Homo sapiens: one gene and its partners. The protein of the gene in region 1 purifies or fractionates together with the protein of each later gene. This does not show direct contact. Each region holds a gene or a part of one and is shown on either strand. Other genes may lie near its edges.

Region 1 (7,025 bases):
CCCCTGCTCCCGGCCGAATAGTACACTTTAAATGGGTGAATTGTTAGGTAGGGGAATTATATATAAATAAAGGTATTATTAAAGGGATAATTGTTGCTTCTATAATTTTACCACACAGTCTGTGCATTGTTTTGTGTATATGTAAAAATGAAAGCATTTATGCTTGAATCTGGAACAGTAGAGTATCACTGAGTGTTACAAATATATTTCTCTTTGCATTATAAAAATACTAAGTCTTCGTTGTTGAAAATTTGTAAAGCACAGAAATTTGAACAAAATTAAATCATAAGGAATGATATTCGAGATATGTAACTTAAATTTTTGGTAGTATTTGATGTCTGCATAGTTTTTCTGTATGTAATATTGTAAAGCCTTAAAAGAATTAATGGCACTGTTTTTGTGTAGCTGGGTTACTTAAGATTTACTTTGCGATCAGTTTAGAAAGTTTAATTACAGGCTTACCTCTGAGTTATGTTTGACTTGCTGATTTTTGAGAATTAAACTAGTATGGAGGTACGATTACCTATTCCACTGCTTCTAAATTTAGACTGTTTCGTGACTGGTTTAGAAAACAAAATTGGGCATGTTTTAGATGAATGCTTTCAGACTCCTACAAATGAATTAATGAGTGGTCTTATTACCATATTGTAATACTTTTTTTTTTTTTTTTTTGAGACAGAGTCTCACTCTGTCGCCTAGGCTGGAGTGCAATGGCGCGATCTCAGCTCAGTGCAACCCCTGTCTCCGGGGTTCAAGCGATTCCCCTGCCTCAGCCTCCCGAGTAGCTGGCACTATAGATGCCTGCCACCATGCCTGGCTAATTTTTGTATTTTTCTTTTTCTTTTTTTTTCCTTTTTTTGAGATGGAGTTTCGCTCTTGTTGCCCAGACTGGAGTACAGTGGCGCGATCTCCACTCAGTGCAACCTCCGCCTCCCGAGTTCAAGCAATTCTCTCGCCTCAGCCTCGAGTAGCTGGGATTACAGGCATGTGCCACCACGTCTGGCAAATTTTTTTGTATTTTTAGTTTCTCCATGCTGGTCAGGCTGGTCTCGATCTCCCGACCTCAGGTGATCTGCCTGCCTCGGCCTCCCAAAGTGTTGGGATTACAGGCGTGAGTCACCGTGCCTGGCCTAATTTTTATATTTTTAGTAGAGACGGGGTGTCACCATGTTGGCCAGGCTGGTCTTGAACTCCTGACCTCAGGTGATCCACCTGCCTCAGCCTCCCAAAGTGCTAAGATGACAGGTGTGAGCCACAGCACCCAACATGTCATCCTTCTTTAATGGTTCAGAATTGCATTTAAAAAATCAGCTTGAGGTGTACAGTTAAACGTGCCACTTTTACATGTACAATTCTGTGACCTGTCCTTTGCACAAAAGCCCCTCAGTTCACCTCTGTACCTTGATAACCATTTGCTTTCTGTCTTTTTAGTTTGTGTTTTTTGCAATTTGATATAAATGGAATGATAAAATCCTTTTAATCTGACTCTTTTCACTTAATATGATGTTTTTCAGATTCTTCCATATTGTTGCTTGTATCAGTTAATTATTTTTCTCCCCTCCCGTCTCCTCTTCTCTTTCTGGACACAGAGTCTCTCGCTTTGTCATCCAAGCTGGAGTACAGCGTTAGGATTATACAAAGTAATTGTGGTTTTTGCTGGCAAAATGCGCAATTACTTTTGTACCAACCTAATAGCTCACTGCAGGCCTGAATTCCTGGGGTCAAGCAGTTCTCTTGCCTTAATCTCCTGAGTAGTTGAGACCGCAGGCACACACCACCACACCCAGCTAATTTTTGTAGAGGCAGAGTCTCACCATGTTGCCCAGGTTGGTCTCAAACTACTGGGCTCAAGTAATCCTCCTGTCTTGGCCTCCCCAAATGCTGGGATTACAGATGTGAGCCACTGTGCATGGACAGTTAATTCTTTATTTTTGAGTGGTATCCCATCTTACATATGTGAACATCAGTGTGCTTATACATTTCCCCTCTGGATGCACATTTGAGGGGTTTCCACTTTTTGGCTATTATGAATAGAGTTGCTGTGAGTGAGTGTGTAAAAGTCTTTGTAAAGATTATTTTTCTTCTGGATGATGCATAGAATTGGGATTGCTGAGTCATATGGTACATGTTTATTAAAACATTGCCGAATATTTTTCGAAGAGACTTTACAAAATATGGCTTAATTTTTTTTATATTCCCGAAAGGATTAATTTTTGAAACATATTTTCCTGGATACATTAGGCACACTCCCCTTAATTTAATAGTGTTTTGGTTTTTGTTTTGTGTTTTTTTTTGAAACGGAGTCTCACTCTGTCACCCAGGCTGGAATGCAGTGGTGCAATCTCAGCTCACTGCAACCTCTGCCTCCCAGGTTCAAGCAGTTCTCCTGCCTCAGCCTTCCTGGTAGCTGGGATTACAAGCGTGCACCACCATGCCCAGCTAATTTTTGTATTTTTAGTAGAGACGGGTTTCACCATGTTGGCCAGGCTGGTCTCGAACTCCTGACCTCAGGCGATCCACCCACCTTGGCCTCCCAAAGTGCTGAGATTACAGGTGTGATCCACCGTGCCCGTCCAATTTAGTAGTGTTTTATGAAGTCACCATCTCTTTCATACCTATTAGTTAAGGTATGCTTATGCTTAGGGTGTTAATGAAAGCTAAGGATGCTTATTTAAATGCAGATTCTTTCTTTTGGTTTTTTTTGAGATGGAGTCTGCTCTGTTGCCCCAGGTGGCATACAGTGGGGCGATCTCAGTTGCAATCTCTGCCTCCTGGGTTCAAGCAATTCTGCTGCCTCAGCTTCCCAAGTAGCTGTAATTACAGGCGCGCACCACCAAACGCAGCTAATTTTTGTATTTTTAGTAGAGACCGTTTCACCACGTTGGCCAGGCTGGCCTTGAATTCGTGACCTCAAATGATCTGCCCACCTTGGCCTCCCACAGTTCTGGGATTATATGCATGAGCCACTACATCCAGCCTATTTTTATTTTTATTTTTATTTTATTTATTCTATTTTTTTTTTTTTGAGGTGGAGTCTCTGTTGCTGGGCTGGAGTGCAGCGGCATGATCTTGGCTCACTGCAATCTCCACCTTCTGGGTTCAAGCGATTCTCCTGTCTCAGTCTCTAGAGTACCTGGGACTACAGGCGTGCATCACCACGCCCAGCTAATTTTTGTATTTTTAGTAGAGACAGTGTTTCACCATGTTGGCCAGGATAGTCTTTATCTCTTGACCTGGTGATGTGCCACCTCGGCCTGCCAAAGTGCTGGGATTTACAGGCATGAGCCACTGTGCCCAGCCTCTGTTTTTATTTTTTAGAGACAGGGTCTCGAACTCCTGAGCTCGAGTGATTCTCCTGCCTCAGCTCTCAAAGTGCTAGGGGTATGAGCCACTTACTCCTGGCCCTAAAATGCAGATTCTTGAGTCTCATCACCAAAGATTGAAACGTGGGTAATGTTGGAGAGCCACATGGTAATATGGCATCAAAAATAAGTTTTTATTAATGTATTTATTCAGTTACTATTTCTTGTGCTGTTTGTGGCGCTTTGCATTCACACGCCGTTGTGTTTCCCTATGCTTGCGGTAGATGCCAAGGCTTTTCTGGGCCCCTTTCTTTGCTCGCCACCTAGTGGTAACAAGTAGGAATCATCAGAAGTTTTACCAATGAAGGAGCTTCATACGAGGAAGGATAGAAAACATCCAAAGTCTGTTGGTGGCCAACCATATACTCCGTATATTTTTGCTGTATGAACAAATTCCCCTTCCTTTTGTATTTTTGGAAATACTATTTATTTGTGAGACAATACATTTTAGAACCTGTAAATTCTTAATCTTTCTCTTAAACTGACAGCTCATTTTTTTTTGCTGGAAAATAGTTAGGTGTGCCTAATTACCTTATTTAATGAGAGGTGCTTTCAGACCACACTAAATTATATTAGATAGTATATGAAGTCTTTCTCACTCCACCTAACTACCTTCTGGAGTCTTTGTATTGGCTCTTAGTTTGGTTTCCTTTACATGTTTTTGGCTTTTTACTCATATTAGTTTTGATGATTATGAAATTATTTTTGTTAAAATGTTTTTTTCGCAGTAGCTTGACAGAAAAAAACTACTTTGAAAGGAATATGTTAAGAAAACTTCAAATTTGTAAGGTCTGACTTTTCCTTTTCCCATACAGAAATGGTGGAGTCAATGAAGAAAGTAGCAGGGATGGATGTGGAGCTGACAGTTGAAGAAAGAAACCTCCTATCTGTTGCATATAAGAATGTGATTGGAGCTAGAAGAGCCTCCTGGAGAATAATCAGCAGCATTGAACAGAAAGAAGAAAACAAGGGAGGAGAAGACAAGCTAAAAATGATTCGGGAATATCGGCAAATGGTGAGATTGTTGTGCCATCATCCCCCCTTATCCACAGTTTGAGTTACCTGTAGGACGGTACACTTAAGATTTTGAGAGAAAAGGAGACTACATTCATATAACTTGTATTACAGTATGTTATAATGTTTCTGATATTGATCTTTGTGCCTGGTTTATAAGTTAAACTTACCCGTGGCTATGCATGAGGACAAAACATAGTCTGTATCAGGTTTGGTATTTTCCATGGTTTCATCACATCCACTGGCAGGTCTCAATGGATCCCTCTTGGATAAGGGGGAACTATTGTATTTTCAAGCAAAATGATGACTGTTTTTTAAAAAAATATGGTGGGTTGGCCAGGCGCGGTGGCTCAGGCCTGTAATCCCAGCACTTTGGGAGGCTGAGGTGGGCGGATCACGAGGTCAGGAGATCGAGACCATCCTGGCTAACATGGTGAAACCCCGTCTCTACTAAAAATACAAAACATTAGCTGGGCGTGGTGGCGGGAGCCTGTGGTCCCAGCTACTCGGGAGGCTGAGGCAGGAGAATGGTGTGAATCCGGGAGGCGGAGCTTGCGGTGAGCCGAGATCGCACTGCTGCACTCCAGCCTGGGTGACAGAGCGCGAGACTCCATCTAAAAAAAAAAAAAAGCACCCAAAAACCAATATATTGGGTTAATTTGTCTGATTCCTCTTTTTTTTTCCCTGAGGATTATTTAATGAAGTTATTTTACTTACTGTGGGTGTATATACATATATAAAATGTTTCTTATTGTAGGTCTTGTTAAAAAAAAGTTGGACAGCCATCACTGTAATGCAGCAGTTTTCAATTAGAGGTGCTTTTGTACTTCAGAGAACGTTTAACAATGTCTAGAAATACTTTTGATTGTCACAACTTCTGGAGGGTGTTCCTAGCATCTAGTGGGGTGGGGACTGGGGTGCTGCTAACCATTCTACTGGGCACAGCACGGGCCCCACAACAAACTGTCGGGAGTGCTGCTGTTGAGTAACCGATTCTAGTAGAAGAGACAGGCACGTAAATACAGGAAAGAACAGGGAAGAGAATTACAGGGCAGGTGGAAAGTGAGGTTGGTTGGGGGAGGGAAGGGTGGGGGAACCACAGTTACTGACTCGCCAGCTGTACTGGGCACTGTCCTGAGTAGAGAAATATTTTTGTTACATGTATTTGTGCAAGGTAGTACATGAAATCTTTAAAATGGCACTGGAAGGGGGAGGTATTATCCCAACTATGAATGCACAAACCAGGGTTTTGGGTGTTTGACATACCTGAGGTCACATAGAAAGTTGTGAGCTGGGGCCTTCCGTGGTGGCTCATGCCTGTAATCCCAGCACTTTGGGAGGCCAAGGCGGGCAGGTACCTGAGGTGAGGAGTTCGAGAGCAGCCTGACCGACATGGTGAAACCCCGTCTCCACTAAAAATACAAAAATTAGCCAGGCATGGTGGCGGGCACCTGTAATCCCAGCTACTCGGGAGGCTGAGACAGGAGAATCGCTTGAACCCAGGAGGTGGAGGTTGCAATGAGCCAACGTCGAGCCACTGCACTCCATCCAGCCTTGGCAACAAGAGGGAAACTCTGAATCAAAGAAAGAAAAAGTAAAAAATAAAGAGTCCAGATGTCCTGATGAGTCCCTAAATAGAAATAATAAGAGAAGAGGAACTGAAAAAGGAAGCCACGGGCCAAGAGTGGAGTGTTGCAATTCAGACTTCTAGTATGGAGCAGCATGGTCATGGGTGTGGACAAGTGAAAGTCTAGGAGTAGAGAGCAAAGAACTCTGTTGAATGGAACATGGCTGCACCATACCTTGGTGTGATCTCAGGTATTGGGTGGGTTTGCTGTAGATACTCAGTGAATCTGGGAGAAGGGTGTAGAGATCTATTGATGACAAAAACTGAGAAATAGAATGTAGATCATCAGCTTGTGAGGAGGAAGAGTTTGGAGTAATAGAGCAGTCATTGAGTATGCAAGGAGCTAGGAGAACTTAGAAGTCTTCCTTCTCCTAGACCAGTCTCTATTGGAAAAGCTGTCAGGGATGTCGTTTATTCAGAAAGTAGTTTTGCTTGGGATAAGGATGTGATTATAGAAGAAAAAGAGAGAATTTTCTGCAGTGAAACGGAGGTTCCAGGGGCACGGAGAGGACCCTCATGAAAGGTTCAGCAGTAGTGCTGCATGAGTTAATAGCAAACAGGAAGCAAGCTGAGGATGTGCGTTGAGAGGTGGTGTGCGTGTTCAGCATGATCAGTGGATAGAGATGGGTGGCAGTAGCTACTTTGGTAGATAGGTTTTCGGTGTTTTAATAGTTACGGATCTCTGCCACTAAAGGAATTGCCTGGTGAATGTTGTTAAGGATGTGAGTGCTGAAGGCAAACTGCCTGGGTTTAAATTTTGATTCTGTCCCTTGCAGCCTGCCTGGGTTCAAATCCTAGCTCTGCTTATTAAATTCTTATTTAATTGTTGATCTTAGAGCAATGTCTTTACGTTGCTACCTTGTGAAAGAAGGTAATTCATGTAATTGACCAGCATTTACCAAGAAGCATCAGTGTTCAGTTTTAGTCATTGGTAATTCTGTAGCTGTACTGTGGTACTGTGAAGGGGGTGTGGGGGCTGGCGTGTGTGCGTGCCTGCATGTGTGTGTGTAACAATAGGCAGC
Region 2 (7,025 bases), on another chromosome or scaffold:
CCTTTTTTTTTTTTTGAGACAGAGTCTCGCTCTGTTGCCCGGGCTGGAGTGCAGTGGCACGATCGTGGCTCACTGCAACCTCCACCCCCTGGGTTCAAGCAATTCTCCTGCCTCAGCCTTCCAAGTAGCTGGGATTACAGGCATGCACCACCACACCTGGCTAATTTTTGTATTTTTAGTAGAGATGGGGTTTCACCATGTTGGCCAGGCTGGTCTCGAACTCCTGGCCTCAAGTGATCTGCCCACCTTGGCCTCCCAAAGTGCTGGGATTATAGGCATGAGCCACAGTGCCCAGCCCTTTTCTGTTTTCAACAACCACGTTTGATGTATCCTAACGCCTTCTTGTCCTATTGGATGACAAAACCCTTTTGTTCAAAGCTGAGTTGTCTGTGGGATCTCAAGCCCTATTCTTTACTCACTTGCTCCCTGGATCTTCAGTCTCTCCTGTATCCAGCTCCCTGCCCCTGCCCCACTCCCCTAGCATATGGACAGATGCTAAGGTGAAACTCCATGAAGGCAGGCGTTGCATCTGTCTGATTCACTGCTATCTCCCTCGTGTCTGCCATAGTGCCTGACTCAAAGTAGGGACTCAATACGTATTTTAAAAGAATAACTGAGGGGCTCAATAAGTATTTTAAAAGAATAACTGAGGTCTCTCCAATCGAAAAAAAAAAAAAAAGATATTTCCTTTGATTTCAAACTTCCCTTGGCCATGGCTCTTTCTCTTCCTTCCCTCCAAGGTAAGGTCTACACTTACTGTCTCCACTTCCTATTGACCATCCATTCCTGGTTTGTAAGGCCTGGTTTGCCCTAGGGATCCACTGAAATTCTGTTAAAGTTGCCGAGGTCCTCAAGGTTGTAAAATTTAAAGGAGGCTATTTAGCCCCTGACTGCCTTGTTTGCTCTGACGAATTTCTCAATCTTGGCCACACCTTCCTTACTTTTTTTTTTTTTTCTTTTTTTTTTGAGACGGCTCCTCGCTCTGTCGCCCAGGCTGGAGTGCAGTGGCGCGATCTCGGCTCACTGCAAGCTCCGCCTCCCGGGTTCGCGCCATTCTCCCGCGTCAGCCTCCCGAGTAGCTGGGACTACAGGCGCCTGCCACCGCGCCCGGCTAATTCTTTTGTATCTTTAGTACAGACGGGGTTTCACCGTGTTAGCCAGGATGGTCTCGATCTCCTGACCTCGTGTTCCGCCCGCCTCGGCCTCCCAAAGTGCTGGGATTACAGGCTTGAGCCACCGCGCCCGGCCACACCTTCCTTCTTGAATCTCTTCTGGTTCTTATCTTACCTTTCTGGTTGTTTCTTTCCACATACTTCAAAGGCTTTTCTTCCTGTGTTTGACTTCATCCTCTCCCCTCATTTCACCTGCTGTTTTGGGCAATCTCACCTAATCTTTTGGTGTCAAGCACCACATTCTGGTGATCCTGCTGCTGATGACAGCAGCTGACTTCTATTGAGTACCACGCACTTTGCCTATGTTGTCTCATTTAACCTTTGTAACATTTATCCGCTAGAGCCCACTATGATGAACTAGGAAACTGAAGCCCGGAGAGCTTCAGTCACTTATCACAGGAGATGGGGGGCAATTTGCACTTGAGTCTAAATCCCATCCCCTTGACTGCTGCACAAGAATGCATCTACCACATACACCCTAATGGTGCCCAAGTGTTCTGCTCCCACGGAAGCCTCCTTCCTGAGTTCCAGATCCATATAGGCCATTAAATATTTCTATCTGGATAGCCTATAGGCTCCTAGGCCTGAATTTAGTTATTTTAAAGCTAACTCGGTCTCATCTCCCTCCTTCCCAGAATTTCTTTTCCCTCCTATGTGCTGTATCTAGGTGAATAGCATCACTACTCACTGAATGGCCAAGGGGTCATTCAGATCCCTTCTTCATCCTATTACTACCTCTAACTGACTTCACCAACTACTCTTTCTTTTTCGTCCTAGAGAAAAGGTGCCCCATCCTTCAATCCACCCATCGCATATTTCCTGGAGTAACTTAATCAACACAAAATTTATCATATCACACCCCTGCTAAAAATTCTCTAATAATTCCCCCATACAATCTGAAGTCTTCTACCTGGCATATAAGGTCTCTCAGGAATCTGGCTGTGTCTATATCTCCAACTTTATATTCTCCCCTAAAATGCCCTCCTTGGTGCACCTTTTAAAGGCTCTGAAGATAGAGAACTAGTTATGGTTCCCCGTTTCTCATGCCTCTGAGCCATGGTGCATACGGTTCCTCTCTCCTCAGAATATAATCCCTGCCACAAACTGCAAAGGGTCTGAGATTTTACCTTACTTGCAAACTAACACGTTAGCCCGCCACAGTTATCCTGCTGGTAGAAAACATGAGACTCCTGGGTTGGAGACGAAGGACAATTTATTACTCAGGGCAGTCACAGTAGCCAGACAGTCAGCATTTCTCTTGGTTCCCTGACCCCCAATTCCCACAGGTCAGGTGACATCTGTATCATGGTGGGTTACAGGAAAGGCAGCTGAGTTTAGGGAGCCGGAATATCTTATAGTGGGAAGTACAGGAAGCAAGCGTGTCTGCCCTTTGCTCCAGAGGAAGACTCTATTTCTATCTTCCATGACTGTTTGCTGTAGAAACATGATGGAAAAGGTAGTTTGGAACACAGGCACTCAATGCCCTGCTTACAAGGTGTGTAGAAACAGGAAGGACCCATGGAGAGTCATCTACCAACAGTCTCCATCCTTGTCTTCTATTTCCAACTAGTACTTAAGTCCTACCTCAAGCAACTACCACCTCTTTTTTCCAAGGTGTTTTAGGGCATGTATCAGCAGGCTTTTCTGCACTTTCTACCCAATCACCATATTTAAGAGTTTGAATAGGTGTCCCTCAAGAAGACCGTAAGCTTCTTGAATTCTTAAGGTTTGGGGTTTCCAAAATCAGTATTCAAATTTTAAACCTTTTCTGAACAGGAACTGAAGTCTATTCTTTTTACTCTGTGTTTTTCTGTATAATATATATGCACAATGCTAAGAGCAAATTTTTATAATATAATTTGAACATAACTCATAGCTAATTTTTTATTTCAAATGTTCAAGAAATAAAAAATAAAGCAATACTTTATTTACAGCTCAGGCATTTCATGAAAGTAAAGTCCCTGACTGTCCTTTAAAGCACAGCTTCTCCTAATAATGAAAACGGACTTGAAGTTCACATAATCCCATAAATAATGATCTCTCTTTCTCTTTATTCTCTCTCTCACAGGTGAAAATGACATTAAATGTCTGGATCGACTTCTACTCCTGTAACAGAATCTGTTTCATGTTCTAACTGTTGACAGCTGCTAATCCCAAAACATGTTTAAAGAAGTACTAGAATTATTACAAAGGATAAATCTGAGCTCTATCAATTATTTTAGATGATGCAGTTATTAATATAGTGGCAACAAGCATAGCAGAATTACTTTCAATTTCCTTCTTAGAGTATAGATGTACACAGTACCAAAAATTCAGTCATTTAAATCAGTTGATAATAATCAGTCATCAAATGAGTCCTGCCATTTCATTGACAAAACATTTCAATGCCTGAAGTTTTTGTTTTTCAACCAGCTGTAGCATGTTCTTAGCTTCTCTGTAAAAAGTAGATTAGACCTTAGCACTGTTCATAAACTATCAAATAATAAGTTCTACATCCAACATAGCCATAATTATTTATAAGCAATTCAGATTCTGCTAATATAAGATTCAGGGTAACTTAGATCAGGTGAATATCTACATTACTTGTCAATAAAAACTTCCATAACAGAGATAAACTATGCAAATAATATTAGGGATTTGGTTTAAAAGTAACTGCAATTTTTGCCATTAAAAGGAATGGCAAAAACTGCAATTATTTCTGCACCAGTTTAATACTAACAAACCATTTGATTATTTTTTAAAGCCATCTCAATCCATGTTATTTGCACTCAACCTTTGACCATTCTTTAAGCCCCAAATAGAACCTCATATTCCAAGGAGAACTCTTATGTTTCATACCCTCAGCAAGAAATACTGTGATTCCAATAAGCTTCTAGTAACGTTCTTGTTAGTAGAGTTGTCTGTGTACACGCCCTATCCCTCTACAGCAAACCTGTGTATTCTGCACAACTCCCACCTAGCACAGTCTTTAAACATAGTAGCTACCCAAGACACAAAGATGTCCTTTATTAGAACAGTTTCAATAATCTTGTTAATGTGTCCTGCTATGCTACATATCTCTGGCAGCATACACTTAGAATCATAAAATTTTAAAGCTAACAAGCTCCTTTTAAGCCATTTAGAAATTTCCCTAATATTTGAAATGAGGCAACTAGATTCTGGAAAAGTTAAGTGGCTTGTCCAAATTTAGTGACAGAATTGGGACAATCCAAGTCCCTGACTCCCATCCAAGTGCTGCAGAGAACCCCAACTTCCTCATGAAAACACTTTCAAGTGTGAAGTTGAAAAAGCAAGTTACTCAGCTTCTCCAAATATTGTTTGTTCTTATAAGAGAATGGAACAAGATCATCCCCAAGTTTTCTTCCATCTCTAAAATCTGGTAAATCTTATTTTCATAATGTATAATACCAAATGTCCCCAACATTGTGTGGGGATGGAAAGCTGCTCCCTTCTTCCCTTAAAGAACAAAAATGTGGGGGAGGTACATGAAGAAAGGATGGGAATTATTGATCAGGAAGTGAGAGAAGCAAGGGTAGGTATTAGTAAGCTGCTTATTGGGAACCCCCTTTGTTCCCAGCCCCCTCCACTCCTTCACAGCAAACTACAGAGAGCAGGATGGGGACTTTACAGTAACTGACAGTACAACAGCCTCTGCAGCTTCAGCCCTCACCTCCTCAGAATGCTGGTGGGAGTGGGTAGGGAGAGAAGAAAGGATGAATGGAGGGGTGCTAGTGGCCTCTAGCTCTAGGTCAGATTAGGAACCGGCCAATATTGATTGGCTGTTGGGGACCCCAGAATGGACAGGAAGTCCCCAGGCAGCTACTCATATTGCTCTGTGAATCAATGGTTTAATTTCTCTGTTCTTTACGCCAGATGGAGTGAGCATGCACCTGAACAGAATTATACTGCAACCTGAAGTACTCTAATCCCATGCAGTAGGCTCACTGACTTGGCTACACTCTTCATCCACTTCCTCCACAGGATTCCACCCCAACGGGAGCAGTGTGTTCCTCACCCAGGAATCCCACAGGGAGCAACAACCCTTGGAGTAGAGGCTGTTTCACCATTGCATGGAGCTCCTGAAACCAGTGGTTCTAAATGTTTTCATCATCAAGGATGCTTTAGTACTGGGGTGTGCCTTTCTAATTTGACATGTAAAGTAATGATGCTTTTGAATGACTTCTTTCTCATATAAATTATTATTATTATTTGAGACAGAATCTCACTCTGTCACCCAGGCTGTAGTGCAGTGGCGTGATCTCAGCTCACTGCATCCTCCGCCCCCTGGGTTCAAACAATTCTTCTGCCTCAGCCTCCCCAGAAGCTGGGATTACAGGTGTGTGCTACCATGCCCGGCTGATCTTTGTATTTTTGGTAGAGATGAGATTTCGTCATGTTTGCCAGGCTGGTCTCCAACTCCTGACCTCAAGTGATCTGCCAGCCTCGGCCTCCCAAAGTGCTGGGATTACAGGCACGAGTCATATAAATTAGAGCCAACTCAAGGCTAGTCCTTTAGAATGGCACTGTCACTTCTTATACTCTTCATTGCACAGGAAAAAGGGTGGGAAATGGGCGAGTGTCCTAGCTGGCCCTCAGAGATTATGTATAACCCTCCTACCTGCAGTGTTCCTTTAAGTTATTCTGCTAAAAGTAAAAAGAATAGTTACCAACACATTATCATAGTGTGTTTATTAACTGATTTAACTTACAAAACGTTGGACAATAAAGGAATATTATCATTGAATAGTGGCACAGAAAAGTGAGGTCACCTGCCCAAGGCCATACTATAAGAAGTGGCAGAATCGGGATTTGAACCCAGGCCCTTTGGCTCCAGAGTTTGCTTGCTCTTAACCACTTTGCTAGAGCAATATCTGTTGACCACCTACCACTTCATGGACATTTTACATTCATGATCTTCTGTACGTTCACAAAGCTGAGAAGTAGGTTTTGTCATGCTCATTTTACCAAAGGGTTCCCTCACTAATAAATTGTGAAGGTGGCATTTGAATCTATATCTGTCTTATCTACAAACTTCTGTTGTTTCTCACAGATGATATCCAAAGATCCCATAGATCTTTAGATGGGAATAACCCTCAAATATCTTTCTAGTGGATTAGCTGGGTTGGTCTATCTAAATTTTGCTTGGCCTCAGCAATCCAAACCTAACATCAAAATTATACTCTAAAAGTATAAAATAAATAAACATAATAATAGCAATAAATAATATTGAGTGCTCACTGTGTACCAGGCACTGTTCTAAGCACTTTGCATGTATAAATTCACTAATTCTGGCAACAAACCTATAGGGCTTACCTAATTCAGAGGTTTAGATTTGCTGATTATATAAAATGTGCTGATAAATACACGCATTGTCTTTTGAAGAGAAAAATAGCTGTTGCTCATCTCAAAGGAGACAGGCACACTCAAAATTAAATGCCTCTTTGTTGGTTCTAAAATGTATTTCCTACATTCTGCACAGCTTCATAAAAACCTACATATCAAGAGTTTTTCAGTTGGCCCAAATATGACACATCTTTTTCTAAACATCTGAAATCTGAAAAGGGACACATTGCCCCTGCATCTAAGACCTCATCAAATGGAACTTTTGGCTTAGAAATGTCAAAAACTGGTCGGGCGCCGTGGCTCACACCTGTAATCCCAGCACTTTGGGAGGCCAAGGCGGGTGGATCACAAGGTCGGGAGTTCAAGACCAGCCTGGCCAAGATGGTGAAACCTCGCCTCTACTAAAAACACAAAATTTAGCCGGCCGTGGTAGAGCACGCCTGTAGTCCCAGCTACTTGGGAGGCTGAGGCAGGAGAATCACTTGAACCCAGGAGGCGGAGGTTGCAGTG
Region 3 (7,025 bases), on another chromosome or scaffold:
GCAGACAGGTGCACGTCGAGCCTGAGCTGGGACGATGCTCTGGGCCTGCCTTCCCACTGAGGGGGTGTGGGTGCCTCTCTTGGCTTCAGCAGCCATCCGAAGGTGGCCCTGCTTGCTGGCCTCCCAGCACCCTCCCACAGACCCACAGGTAAGCCAAGTGCTGACCTGCCACGCGCCACAGGTAGGACTGGTGCCACTGAGGCATACACGCGTGGCAGTGACTTAGGCTGGGCCAGCATCTCACACATCCTCCAGCCCAGGGCTAACTTGAAAATTCACAGGTCCCCTTTATACAGAGCCACCCCCATCCACAAACACAGGCTCACAGAGACTCCAAACACATAAAGGTAACGCTTAGGGCTCTGCCCATGGGACAGGCCTTTTTGGTCTCTGCTGCCAGATCGCAGCTGCCAGTCCAGCGAGGACCCTGTGAGTTGTGCTGCCAAGGCTTTTTAAGAACAAAGTGCGTCTAAGCCTGGGAAGTGCCCTCGCTCCGCACACGGGGTTGTTTTAAGGGTGGTTTTCGGCGTTGCCTTGGTACGGGATGAAGTCTGTGAGTTTGGGGAGGGAGGGCTGCGGGAGCTGCACTCACCCTGTAGGGGACACTGGTCCTCCCGGAAAGGCCCCTCCTTGGGGTCCCCATTGGGCAGCTCCTGCAGGAAGAACGGGGCAGTCAGTGGCCACATAGCTCAGTGGGCAGGCGGGGGAGATGGGCAGGAGCTCTGGGCGGCTGGACTGGAGCCTGACACTCGCCTCAGGCCTCCTGGGGCGTCTCAATCTCTGGGTCCAGAAACACCAACCCTTCGTGCCCCACTCAGCCTCAGATTTTAGGAAGCAAAACACACAGACATTCCTGTGTTGTCAGGTTCCCCAAAGCATTTCCAGGTAGAAGATGCAGCTGCCTGGAATGACCCCTTCAGTCAGTGCTGCCCTGGGGATCCCCTTGGCCAGGGCCCCCATGCTGGATTACCCTAAATGCAAGAGGAGACACACTGCCCCTTTGCTCTGGGGCCTGCTCCCAGCACTGCCCACTGGAGCCTGACACGAGGACTCCAGCCGCTGCCCGCATGGCTGCCCAGGACCCCAACATGCCTCTTATAGGGCTGCCGGCCGAGACCAGTTACGGAAAATGGGGAAAAACTTCAAACACATCCCAGCGGTGTTTCAGCTGAGCCGAAGCTCACATGGTTCTCATGAATAATCTGCAGCCTTCAGGACACAGAGAAGGAGACAGACCTGTGGTCAGGGCAGGGGCCTTGCGCAGTGGTGGAGGTGCGGAGCCCCTCGGCCCAGCACACACCGCCCTGGAGCATTTCCTGAGAGCAGGCAGCTCTCGGGCAGGCGGGCGGGAGGGATGGGCAGCTGTGTTTCTGCTTCTGATTCCAGGTCCCTGGAAAGCCGTGGAAAGCCCACAAGGAGATACAGCACAGAGCTCAGTCCCGTCCACCTGGACGGCCAGAGCCTGACCCTGGAGATGACTTTGGTGCCGAGTTGGTGTCTCCGTGGGTGGACACAGGACCCCAGGGCTGCCCAGCTGGGACTGCCCTCACAGTCCCCACGGCTTCATCCTTTCCTCCTGACCAGGGGTCATGTGCCCCTCATCTCTTCTGACCTCCTATGGGGCTGTCTGCCCTGCCGGGGTCCCTGGGGTTCCTGGAGTCTGGCCCAGGCAGGAGGCTGAGCAGGGTCACCCTCGAGGGCACCTGGACCCCCCCAAGCGCCTCCTGCCACCGTGGTCACTGGCCAGGGTCCAAACAGGGTATGGTGGAAGGTTCCAGGCTGGCCAGCTGCCACCCCAGAACTTGGGTGGGGAGAGAGGGACCAGACCCCCACCCACACATGGGCACTAAGGTGGCGCTGCCGAGGCTGAATATTGTTGAGTGAGACCCAGGCCCCCAGCCCCCCTTGTGGCTGAGCCAAGGGCCCCCCAGAGCTGAGGTCTCCTGCTGGCCGCCCAGGGCGGTGCCAAGGCAGGGTGGGCAGCTCCCAGCGGGAGGCAGGAGAGCTTGCCCTCATTTTAATAAGAAACAAAACAGCTGATTATTAAAAAGTAGGCCTCCCTCCTGGGGGCTGCAGTCCCGACATTCCGGGACTGGCTGCTGCAGCCTGAGGGGCCCCATGAGCCCAGCCCGGCGAGGCCTTTGTACATCCACACAGCAGGGAGGCACCGCTGTGAGGGAAAAGCTCTGTCCAGGTGGACGCTGGCATAAAACCAAATCATCTCTAAAACCCAGGCTGTAGTTATTTATTTATTTATTTCAAAATCAGAATAATGGGTGAGGCTGCAGTCGTGGGCTTCCATGGAGTGCAGAGCAGTGCCCAGAGCCCCAGAGTTGCAGCCCCCATGGGCACAGAATCCTCGTGGGATGGACCAGATACTAGGAGCTCTACAGCCCCTCAGGTGGACTCGTGCAGGTGCTTGGAGGTGGCTGCCGACAGAAATGGTGTCATAAGGGCAGCCAAGGCCACCAATGCCCAGGCTGAGGGATGCAGGCACTGCCACTGCGGAGGGGGGCCAAGGCCACCAATGCCCAGGCTGAGGGACGCAGGCACTGTCACTGTGGAGGGGGGCAGCCAAGACCACCAATGCCCAGGCTGAGGGACGCAGGCACTGCCACTGTGGAGGGCTGGTAGGGAGGGGAAGGTGACCCTAAATGCTGAGGTGGGTGCCCCGAGGCATCCCTGTCTACCCTTGGGAGCTCCAGCCCAGACCTTCTCCTCTGGGATGTGGGGAGGGTGCAGGGGACCTGTGTGGTGAAGCCCCCAGGGTTCTCAGTACCCCCCCCCCCGCACCACAATCCCCCCTCAGGCACCCAGTTCACCTCCCATCAGACCAGCAGGCAGAGCTCAGGCCTCCTGCATGGTGCTGGGTGCCCTGAGCCTCCTTACAGATAGCAGTGAGGTGCCCTGGGGCCTGAGGGCCAGCGCGTACAGCACTCCTTGCTAAAGAGCCTTAACTGAGGTCACTCATGGAGGCCACATCGCTGCCCAGATGAGGGGCAGCAGCAGTGGCTTCCTGGAAAGTGCCAGAACTCAGAGGAGCCGGAGGTGCGGTGGCTCCTGAGGACAGGCAGCGGGCGACGGGTTGGACGGGGTGGAGTATTTTTTAAGGATTTTTAAGTGTTTCCCACGATTTGCTGAACATGTCAAGTGAGAAACAGCACATCACGCACTCCACGCATAAAGCTAATACAGTGAAAATGTAAACGCAGCCCGTGCCGTGTTTCTAAAAATTCTGAGCGCACTTGTGGGGGATTTCACTGGTTACAGACAGGAGTGTAAATGCACAGGGTGACAGAAGGAGGGGCGCAGCTGTTCAAGACAGAATCTGCACAGACCCGTGGTTTGATGTCTGGAAACGCTCCGCGCGCTACACCAACCAGCCAAGCTACAATAACCAATAAAAACTGTAATAACCAACCAAAACTACACCATGTAGCCAACGCTGCACCAACCAGCCAACGCTGTATCAACCAGCCAATACTACACCAACCAGCCCATGACTGAGTTCCTAACACAGAGGAAAACCACATTGAAAAAATATCCCCTTATTCCCTAGAATTCTCAGCGCTCGAACGCACAGTGTTTTTTCTAAGACCCAGGTCAACAGCTACCTCTGAGATGCAGGGAGGATCAAACGGGAAAAAATGAGCATCTACAGTCAAAGCCACTCCAATCTCTGTGGCTGGTGATTTCATCAGATCCGTCCTGGTTGCATAAAACTGCCCTTTAATCTACGCTGCCTCGGTTAACTAGAAGGCCAAGAGCTTTAATTGCAACTTATAAAACCTGCCCCCGGGCCGCTGGCCAGATGTGCAGCCCCTCCCCACTGGGAAGACCTTCTGAGAGGCCAAGTCCGCACACAGGATCCCAGCAGGCCTGGCCCAATGTGCCCCGGCACCCACCAAAGCCTCAGCTTCCCAGGGCGGGCGCCCCTCCCTGAGATGCAGCCCCCACCTGGCCTCGCCCTCCTGAGGACCCACCCTACCCTCACTCCCTCCCGAGGGCCCAACCCTCCCCCTCAATCCCTCTGGCCCTGTCCCTAGCGAGACCCTCCTGTGATCCCCCAACCTGTTCCGCCCCCCTTCCTGTCCCAGCTGCACTTCCGGTTTGGGGTGCCTAGGCGCCTCCTCTAGCCTGTCCCACTGCTCTGCATCCCTGAGAACCCTCCAGGTCAGCAGGGACCCCACGGCTGGCCTGCAGACCTCCCCATGCCCGTTGTCCCCTCCCGCCCATGGCATCCTCCTGTGATGCCGGGGGCTCTCCTGGCCCCTGGGAGGACAGGAACCCGACCGTGGGCCTGCCCCGTGGGGCCTCATCCCATAAGGAAAGCAGCCGCATCTGCCTGAGCAGCTCAACCCCACTCCCTCACTCAGCATCACCTCAGATTTGGGAGGAGGGTCTGACCCCAACCCACGGAGGCCTCCGGGACCAGAACCCATAGCCTCGCAGCTGCATGAGCAGCAGGCGTCTGTCACACGGCGTCAACAACAGGTAGCCTTTGCTTCAGGTCCCACGGCCCTACGGGATGCTCAGGAAGGCCACCCTGGTCTGTGAGCCAACCACCCCGAGGCCACCGTCCACGTCCCCGCCACGACAGTGAGGACATCTGATCCCCGCCACAGGCACCGGGCTGAGCGCTTCGTCCTCCCAGCACCCAGCCCCCGTCCTGGTCCCAGCCCAGACGGTAAGATGCAAACCACAGCCTCCACAGGCGGCCAGGCACGGAGAGACGCTCACAAAACCTCAACCCCCAGCTTCCTTGGAAAAGTCAAAAGGAGTGTGTTCCCCACGTGCCAGCGCTCGGCAGCGCCCAGCAGCTGGAGCACCACTGCCCCCCAGAGCCACCCCGTCTGTCGGAACCCCTGCAGAGGCGCCAGGCAGCTGCAACACAGGTATCATCCTGGTGGCCTTCAACCTGGAAGTGCCGGTGCAGGCACCTCTGGGAGCCACCTGGAGCGGGCGATGTCCTCTTCCCAGTGGACAGGTGGGCACGGCCAGGCACCTTTCCCAGGTCTCGCAAATGCAAGGAGGCGCTGTCCCCTCCTGGGCCTCGTGAGGGCAGCTGTTGGCCACAGCTCTGGTGGAACGCCCGGTGGGAAACACACGGGTGTCCACAGTGAAGTCACGGCCCTCTGGGACATGACCTAAACCCTGGTCTAGGGTTCTAGAAATACCAACCCCGATCAACAGGCAAAGGCCACAGCGTGTCCAGGAGGCCAGGCTGGGAGCATCCCCTGGAGCCCAACGTCTCCCCACGAGTTGGGAGGGTGGAGGTGATGGGAGCCGAGGCAGAGGAGAGGGAGCGGGGAGGGAGGAGAGAGACAGAGAGGAAGGCTTCAGAGAACTGGGTGGGCGTGTCGGGCAGCATTTTCCAGACCTCGGGGCTCCCGGGTCCCTCTGGAGTGGGTGTGGAACCCCAAGTCTGGGACGTTATCCAGAAGGCACAGCTCCTACACCGCCTGACACAGGACGGGCCTCTCCTACAGCTTTCATCGCCACCAGCAGCACCTGGCACCCCTAGATCCATAGGCACCTCCCAGGCTGCACTCTGGCTCCCCAGCGCCTTGGCCACCTTGCACTGTGGTGGGGACGGCCCTGTTGGGTGGAGCCCCTGGCTCGAAGTTTCTGCCACTGGGGAAATGGCCTTGGTGCACCTCCCTGTCCTTGGCAGGTCAAGCAGTGGCTCTCGAGCTGTGCCCAGGGGGCCCCCAGGAGCTGGAAAGAAGGGCCGGGGTGACAGCCTGGCCCATGTCCTGTGGTCATTGTCACCACCCCTGTGGCCACCCTGTTCTGCAGGGCTAATCCTACAAACTGGGCTGCCAGGCCCAAGGCTGCCAGAATTACGGGGCTGTCGTGGCATCGAGGGCCAGTTTGTGGGGCTCAGGCAGGATGCCAAGTGGTGAGGAGCAAGGTAGGCGCCTGCCAAGCTTAGGCTGCAGCCACCGCCACCTCAGGGCACTCGGGAGGCACCTGGGATGCGGCTGGGCAGGACCAAGGCCACGTCCAGGCCAGCAGTGACCTCCTGCCTCGGGGGCTGGGAGGATGCTGGACGTGGTAGAATGAAGTGAGTGCCTGGCAGGTGGCTCAGGGAGGGGAGCTTTGGGATATGGCACACGGGCTGGAGCTGGGCCTCTCAGGAAAAGGCTGAGGGTGATGTCTGGATCCCAAGGAACCCAAAGGGCTGGGACACCCACAGTGGGTGGGAAGAGCAGGGACAATGGGCTGGGACACCCACAGAGGGTGGGAAGAGCAGGGACAATGGGCTGGGACACCCACAGCGGGTGGGAAGAGCAGGGACAATGGGCTGAGACGCCCACAGCAGATGGGAAGAGCAGGGACAATGGGCTGAGACGCCCACAGAGGGTGGGAAGAGCAGGGAAAAAGGGCTGGGACGCCCACAGCGGGTGGGAAGAGCAGGGACAATGGGCCGAGACGCCCACAGAGGGTGGGAAGAGCAGGGACAATGGACCGAGACGCCCACAGCGGGTGGGAAGAGCAGGGACAAAGGGCTGGGACGCCCACAGCGGGTGGGAAGAGCAGGGACAATGGGCTGAGACGCCCACTAGCAGGTGGGAAGAGCAGGGACAATGGGCTGAGACGCCCACAGAGGGTGGGAAGAGCAGGGACAAAGGGCTGGGACGCCCACAGCGGGTGGGAAGAGCAGGGACAATGGGCTGGGGCACCCACAGAGGGTGGGAAGAGCAGGGACAATGGGCTGAGACGCCCACAGCGGGTGGGAAGAGCAGGGACAATGGGCTGGGACGCCCACAGAGGGTGGGAAGAGCAGGGACAATGGGCTGAGACGCCCACTAGCGGGTGGGAAGAGCAGGGACAATGGGCTGAGACGCCCACAGCGGGTGGGAAGAGCAGGGACAATGGGCTGGGACGCCCACAGAGGGTGGGAAGAGCAGGGACAACGGGCTGGGACGCCCACAGCGGGTGGGAAGAGCAGGGACAACGGGCTGAGATGCCCACTAGCGGGTGGGAAGAGCAGGGACAATGGGCTGGGGCACCCACAGAGG

Evidence for each region. Proteins that work in one complex are often made in the same cells at the same time.
Region 2: the proteins of YWHAE (region 1) and TBC1D1 purify together in Homo sapiens (affinity purification with mass spectrometry; 4 studies listed by BioGRID and IntAct, with this or other methods). This does not show direct contact.
Region 3: the proteins of YWHAE (region 1) and NKD2 purify together in Homo sapiens (affinity purification with mass spectrometry; 4 studies listed by BioGRID and IntAct, with this or other methods). This does not show direct contact.

What each region holds. Positions count from the first base shown.
Region 1 is NC_000017.11:1,362,211-1,369,235, reverse strand, and holds part of YWHAE (14-3-3 protein epsilon), read left to right. Parts: intron 1-4,177; coding exon 4,178-4,377; intron 4,378-7,025. UniProt on the Homo sapiens protein: Adapter protein implicated in the regulation of a large spectrum of both general and specialized signaling pathways. Binds to a large number of partners, usually by recognition of a phosphoserine or phosphothreonine motif.
Region 2 is NC_000004.12:37,894,062-37,901,086, reverse strand, and holds part of TBC1D1 (TBC1 domain family member 1), read right to left. Parts: intron 1-7,025. UniProt on the Homo sapiens protein: May act as a GTPase-activating protein for Rab family protein(s). May play a role in the cell cycle and differentiation of various tissues.
Region 3 is NC_000005.10:1,025,780-1,032,804, reverse strand, and holds part of NKD2 (protein naked cuticle homolog 2), read right to left. Parts: intron 654-7,025; coding exon 593-653; intron 1-592. UniProt on the Homo sapiens protein: Cell autonomous antagonist of the canonical Wnt signaling pathway. May activate a second Wnt signaling pathway that controls planar cell polarity.